Homo sapiens: one gene and its partner. The protein of the gene in region 2 interacts with the protein of the main gene of each other region in a biochemical or structural test. Each region holds a gene or a part of one and is shown on either strand. Other genes may lie near its edges.

The links. Proteins that work in one complex are often made in the same cells at the same time.
Region 1: the proteins of SNU13 (region 2) and NUFIP1 form a complex in vitro, tested with the Homo sapiens proteins (one study listed by BioGRID).

Annotation. Positions count from the first base shown.
Region 1 is NC_000013.11:44,940,852-44,944,603, forward strand, and holds part of NUFIP1 (FMR1-interacting protein NUFIP1), read right to left. Parts: intron 2,824-3,752; coding exon 2,591-2,823; intron 472-2,590; coding exon 355-471; 3' UTR 1-354. UniProt on the Homo sapiens protein: Binds RNA.
Region 2 is NC_000022.11:41,687,415-41,691,166, forward strand, and holds the start of SNU13 (NHP2-like protein 1), read right to left. Parts: upstream 1,383-3,752; coding exon 1,380-1,382; intron 914-1,379; coding exon of another isoform or gene 814-913; exon of another isoform or gene 304-813; intron 1-303.

The DNA.
Region 1 (3,752 bases), on a different chromosome or scaffold from region 2:
TCAATCCTTTTAAAAGCTTTCTTCTTTACTGCTAAACCTATCTTCAATTCTTAACTAACACAACATCAGTCATTCTTACATGAGAACAATACATTAAAATAAATACAAAGAAAAAATTCTCCCAGCAAATACTAGATTCAATCCCAACAATACAGACACAGTCTTAAAAAATCAGTTATTTTTTTATTTGCATAGAACCAAAGGAAAGACTTAAAATTCCAACATACATCCTACGAGGCTTACAATTTAATTACAAATCCAATTTTGACGGAAAAAAGGGTTTTGGTTTTCCTCTACTAACGAGGATGATACTGTTTCACATGCTTCAGTTATGTATGCTGAAACACCAGATGCCTATACATCTTTACTTTTCGCAGAATTAGTATCCAGTCCAAAAAAGTCTTTTTTGATGATGTACCGAACACACTGCAAAATCACATTTCTTTCATGTCGAATGTCCGGAGCTAGAAGCTAAAACACAATTTAAAAAAAGATGAGGTAGTAAATAAATTATATCTGGGAAATACAATCTAAAATATTGCATGTACCCTCACCATATAAAGAAGACAGAACAATAAGAAATATGTATTATATTCACTATTTTGCTAAAAAACGATGCAAGAACATGTCCTTTTAATTTATATCAAGACTATCTAGCTTTTTATTTATTTATTTATTTTGAGACGGAGTCTCGCTCTGTTGCCCAGGCTGGAGTGCAGTGGCGGGATCTCAGCTCACTGCAAGCTCCGCCTCCCGGGTTCACGCCATTCTCCTGCCTCAGCCTCCCGAGTAGCTGGGACTACAGACACCCGCCACCATGCCCGGCTAATTTTTTGTATTTTTAGTAGAAACGGGGTTTCACCGTGTTAGCCAGGATGGTCTCGATCTCCTGACCTTGTGATCCACCCGCCTCGGCATCCCAAAGTGCTGGGATTACAGGCGTGAGCCACCATGCCCGGCCAAGACAATCTAGCTTTTTAAACAGTACTAACGCTTATATTTGGAGTCCTCTCTAAGAGTATCTAGCATAGGACAGGAAAATAGGTTTAAACGTCTGCGATTCTTTTTTTTTTGAGACAGAGTTCCACTCTTGTTGCCTAGGCTGGAGTGCAATCATGCGATCTCAGCTCACCATAACCTCCGCCTCCCGGGTTCAAGCAATTATCCTGCCTCAGCCTCCCGAGTAGCTGGGATTACAGGCATGCTCCACCATGCCCGGCTAAAAAGTCTGCAATTCTTTAATCTAAAATTATGTCAAAGAGGATTGCCCAAACCCAAATTCATAAGCAGTCTAGAAATTGGTAAGTACATCTATTTACATGTAACAATGAAAATAGCAGTAAAAACTTCCAACATTCCTTGACTTTTATAACTTTCCATTTTTGTGCTTATTGTAATTAAAAGAAAGCTAGAAATCCCTGGTATTTAGAACAAGCACATAATCAAGGAATCACATGTAGTTTGCCAAAAAGGAATTTATTTTATTTTCTGGTGTTATTGATAGAGTTCAGAAACATCATACAGAAACTTTCAGTGGAAAGCTCACTTAATTTACCAATTATAAGGTAACTTTTTAAAATGTAATTTACTATGTATACAAAATGGAGCGTATATTTCAGATCCATTTTAATAGGAAGCAACTGTGCTACATGTAGCACCTCAAGAGTGTAGCCACTGAACACTTTAGCTACAAAATAAGTACTTAACTTGTAAGTCAAAACCAAACAGACTTTTCACAGAATGTCAAGTTTTATAACTCCACTAAAAAATGTAAAATACTTCTATTGCTTAGACATGAAAATCTTTGATTTTCAAACAGCTTCATGTCCACTACTGAGAACTTGAAGATGCATTGCTTCCTCTTTATAATTTGAAGAAAGCTATTAGATTTTTGAGCACATAATGCTGAGAATAAAGCCACGAATGCACAGAATAAACACAAATAAATAAAGGTGTACAAAGAAAAAAAATTAGCATGGTAGTGCATGCCCATAGTCCCAGCTACTTGGGAGGCTGGGGCAGTAGGATCACTTGAGCCCAGGAATTCGAGGCCACAGTGAGCTATGATCACGCCACTACACTCCAGCTTGGGTGACAAAGCAAGACCTCAACTCTTAAAAAAAAAAAAAAAAAAAATAGGTGGAGGAGGGAGGGAAGGAAGACAATCCCAGAAGATAACAAATGAGAATTGTCAGAAAACCTTAGGCCTTTCCTTTTTGTTACTGTATGGTTCTCAATAGACATTTGTACTAAAAATCTTTTTTTCCCTTCAGCTTGCCATTGTACTTTTAGCTGTGCTTTCACTGGAAACTTAAAAGAAAGTCAATAAACCTCAGTAGATACTTCCTTACCAACTAGTGAAACCTAAATTTATTTTAAGTGGTTGTAAAAATTACATTATTCCACATTCACTGAATATACCAGCTATATGCCAAATGTAGCTACAGAATTAAGATACAAAGTCTCCAAGGTCAATGTGTCTCTGGTAACCTTAAAACAAACACACACACACACACACACACACACCCCAGTGGCTCTATCTTTATGATGTGAGAACACAAAGATTAGAACCTAAAGAAAAATAATTTACCATTTCCAAGAGATATGGATGGTGTGTTCTTGGTTCGAATAACGTTTGATAGTTGTGATAATCTTTTTTCCTCTTAGGGTTTGTTTTTTCAAAGCTTTTCTTTCGGTTCTCACTCTTGGCTTCTGAAAAATTTCTAACAGTTGCTTTAACATCTTGACTTGGACTCTTAGGAGCACTGCTATCAAGAACCTGGTTTTCTGCCAAAACGTCTGCTTCAGTCTTGATGGGAGTTTCTAAGTGTGATGAAAAACAAACACAAAAATAAACAAAACAAAACAAAACAGGTAGACCTTTCAAAAGCAACCAACAAATCCATAATAATCCTCCTAGCCATAATATTGTTCACTTAATAACTTAAAACTATGAAAGATTTTTGCAAGGCATTTATAATGTATTCTAGTATTTTTCAAATTGGAAGCTGTAACTACCAAAAATTGAGAAGACTACCATGAAGAGCTACAGAAAGTGATCTCTATGAAAGAAATAATGCCAGATGGAAACTTGGATCTATACAAAGGAAGGATAAGTGCTGGAAAAAGTAAATATGTGAATAAATATAAAAGACTTTTTTTCCTCATTGGCAAAATTTTAAAACTAAAGCAAAAATATTAAGTGTATGTGCAATTTATAACATCTATAGAAATAAAATCTCTGACAACAATAGTAAAAAGGCAGAAGGAATATGTAAGTAGTATACACTGTAAAATCTTAAATTACATGTGAAGTAGATATCATTTGAAAGTACACGATGAAAAGTTAAGCTGCATACTATAAACTGCAGACCAACTCCTAAAAAGTAAAACAAAGAAGTCAAAAGGATGAAAGAAGATACCAAGCATATACCAATCACATGAACGCCGAAAGTCTGTATTAATGTCAGACAAAAAAGACTTCAGAACAGTGAACATCACCAGGGATGAAGTGGAACAGTTCATAATGCTAAAGGGGTCAATTCGTCAATAAGACAAAGAATAACACCTAAGAACAGATTTTCAATATGCATTGCAGCGAAAACTGATAGAACTGAGAAGAGAATTAGACAAATCCATTATTATGATTGAATATTGAACGTTCCAATCTCAGTAATTAAAGAAAAATTGGACAGAAAATTCGTAGGGATACAAAATATCACTAACGATTAACTCAAATTGACAAAGAACAC
Region 2 (3,752 bases):
CAAATTCATAAAAGAGGAAGACTTCAGGAATCTGAACAATCATTAAATACCTAAATGTTTCACTATTAGTCAACAAAAAAGTTAAACTCAATTTTAAAACCAAACTAGCTTATAAACACTAATTGAAACTTGCTTAGGGTGTATTTATTTGCCTTTCAATTTCTTCAGGGGTTAAATAAATTAACGAATGATATCATACCACCAGCCAACCTAAATCCCTACCTAGCATGATCAGTTTGGTTTCGCTGTACACCAGACAGCCAAAACTTGCAAGGTTTTGATTGAACAACAAATACTGCGTGCTTACTCTGTACCAAGCATCAGGACTAGATGTTTACCATGCTTTATTTCATTTGATCCTCACAACACCCTCATGCACTGTCATCCCCATTTTACAGTTGAGGAAAACTGCAAAGTTCAACCTGAGACCATCCGATTCCAAAACGTTTCAGGGAGCTGCGTTAAAGCGAGCACTGAGTTTGGAAGCTTCAAGTTCTAGGCTCAGCCACGTACTAAGCTTCAAAATGCATGGGAGGAGGTTTGTGGGGAGTGCTACCGCCGGGATCCAAGCTCCACTGGAAGGATTAACTATAGAAGTTACAGTGCTTTACAAATTCTTCCCTCCTCACCAAGTGCCAACCAAAACTACTACGCCAGGACACACGTTTTAGAACTTTCCCTAGATGTTTAAAAGTCAGAGACGACCAAGAGTTTAGAGACGCCGCACGTGGTGCTACCAGACTTCTGGTTTTTGAAGCCACCGCCTTGCAGGAGAAGCCTTTCCTGCACTCCAGGCCGTGAGTCGCGCTCACTTCATGTTCCCCACAGCCCCCAAATGCCAAAGGCTCCTCTAGGTCCCTGGCGCGTGTGACTCGCGGCGGGCACTAAGCGCAGACCCATGGGAGATCTCCTCCTGAACCCCAGCAACGGGGGTGGGGTGAGGTAGGGTGGGTAGGAGAGGTTGATCCGAATCCCAGGGTCCCACGCCATCGTAGATTTCGTATGAAAAGAAACAAGGAAAAAAAAAAGTTGGAGCCAAGTTTTCTTCACCCAACTTTTTGCCCTCTCCCACGTGGGTTGGTCTCTTTCTCCCAGGCTGGGCCATGCCCCCTCCGCTCGCTGCAGGCCTTTTGCCAAGCAAACAGACCGTGCGGCAAAGCAACACAGCTGCGGGGATCCTAAGGTTTCCTGAGTTCTAACCTCGGGCCAGGCTGCTGGGACCCCGCCGCTGCTGGGGTTCTAACTAAGGGCCCGGCGGTTAAGACCCAACGCCGGCGGATGAGACGGCGCAGGCTCTAAGCCTCCATCTAACAGGCTAGGGAGTGAACGCAACCCTGAGTCTCCCGCTTCCCGGTCCCTCGGCCGGCGCACGCACTCACCATGGCTGCGGTTCCGCGGGCTCAGCACTCCTAGGGGAGCGCAGCTGACGTTTCAGAAGCACTCGCGTGCACCGGAAAAACTCACAGAAGCAGCAGCGGAAATGGCCCCGCGCGGCAGGAAGCGAAGGTGACGCTACGCGAGCGAGTGGGCCCCGCCCTCTACGGGGGCACTGGCGCGGAAACTGGCCCTGTGTCGAAGAAGGAACGTACTTTGGCGTTCTTATGAGCTGCCTAGTACAAATTATTGGCAGAAACAATGAATTAAACATTCAAAAAGTAACCCACCGGCCGGCCGCAGCGGCTTATGGCTGTAATCCCGGCACTTTGGGAGGCCGAGGCGGGCGCATCACCTGAGGACAGGAGTTCGAGACCAGCCTGGCCAACATGGCGAAACCTCGTCCCTACTAAAAAATACAAAAATTAGCCAGGCGTGGTGGCGGGCGCCTGTAACCCCAGCTACTTAGGAGGCTGAAGCAGGAGAATCGCTTGAACCCCGGAGGTGGAGGCTACAGTAAGTTGAGATCATGCCACTGCACTCTAGCACTCCAGCTGAGGCGACAGAGCGAGACTCTCAAAAAAAAAAAAAAAAAGGCCGGCCGGGTGCGGTGGCTCCCGCCTGTAATCGCAGCACTTTGGGAGGCTGAGGCAGGCGGATCACTAGGTCAGGAGATCGAGACCATCCTGGCTAACACAGTGAACCGTCTCTACTAAAAATACAAAAAATTAGCCGGGCATGGTGGCGGGCGCCTGTAGTCCCAGCTACTCGGGAGGCCGAGGCAGGAGAATGCCGTGAACCCCGGAGGCGGAGCTTGCAGTGAGCCGAGATCGCACCACTGCACACTGCACTCCAGCCTGGGCAACAGAGTGAGACTCCGTCTCAAAAAAAAGAAGAAAAAAAAGAGGGCCGGGTGCGGTGGCTCACGCCTGTAATCCCAGCACTTTGGGAAGCTGAGGCGGGCGGATCACCTGAGGTTGGGAGTTCGATACCAGCCTGACCAATATGGAGAAACCCCCGTCTCTACTAAAAATACAAAATTAGCCGGGCGTGGTGGCGCATGCCTGTAATCCCAGCTACTCGGGAGGTTGAGGCAGGAGAATCGCTTGAACTTGGGAGGTGGAAGTTGCAGTGAGCCGAGATCGCGCCATTGCACTCCAGCCTGGGCAACAAGAGTGGAAACTCGGTCTCAAAAAAAAAAAAAAAAATTCCAGCCACTAAACAGTTAAGGCCTGGCTCATTATAATTGGCTGACGTCCCTGCCTGCTCAGATATTTAATATTTTGAATAGAACTTTTGGGTAAAAGAGTCTTCAGGGTAACATTTATTTTCCCACCAACACTGATCCTAAGATGGGAAAAGTAATTCCCCCACAGGAAATCAGGATACTGCAAGCAACGAGAAAGGCATGTTGAGTGGTTAAACAAGAATACATGTATTCAATACAGTGTTCATTAAATGTTTGATAATAGAAGGACAGGCAGATCCAAGTATTTCATAGGAAGAAAGAAATCAAGCAGACCGCAGGTTATATCACCCCATCACACATTCAGGGAACTTAATCTTTTCATTCCAGAGGATGGGTTTGTTTAAAACAAGTTCTTCCTCCTAATTACTTTTGAACAATTCCCCAATACTGTCCTTACCTGCACCAAGAGCATGCTAACCAGGCCTGGCACCAGGGTCAGAGTTGAGGCTGGGGCATCAGCCCCCTTTGTGAGGTGGCCTCAGTGACAGGGGTGCTATGAGGTGGCGGCTATCCTACTGCAGCTGGCTGCATCAGATGTGCCAGGCCTGCCCTCTAGCTCCCAACACCATCTGCCTGATCTAAGCTTTGCCATGTTGTTGTCACTGCTGGGTGCCTGTGCTGTGGTGGGGCCATTCCATGGCCCTGAGTGGGAGCCAGTGCAGGGCCTGCTCTCCCAGAATCACAGCTGCAGGGACCCTCAGTGCTGTGGCAACCTGCTTGTCCTCTGCCTCTTTCTGGTCTGGCAGGTCCGGCACTGTTGGCACCAGGTCACCAGGACCCGCTTCAGCACAAGGAATGTCATCAAGGTGAGTGGGCCCCATACACCTTCACCCTTCTTCCCTCAGCACCATGATTGTCTCTGTCACTTGTTACAAGGACCTTGTTTTATGCCTGGTGTACCAGAAATGAATCAGAGGGAAACTCAGGCTGCTCAGGGAGAGCATCGGCCAAGCCCCAAACCCAGGAGTCACCCTGAGCTCCTCTCTTTCCCTCACTCCACACATTCAATCCATCTGCAGGTCCCAGGGGCTATACTTGCAAATTGTATCTCAAATCTGATCACTTCTAACCACACCACACCCTCCTGGGCAGAGACACCATCATGTCTCAACTGGACCATAGCAACAGC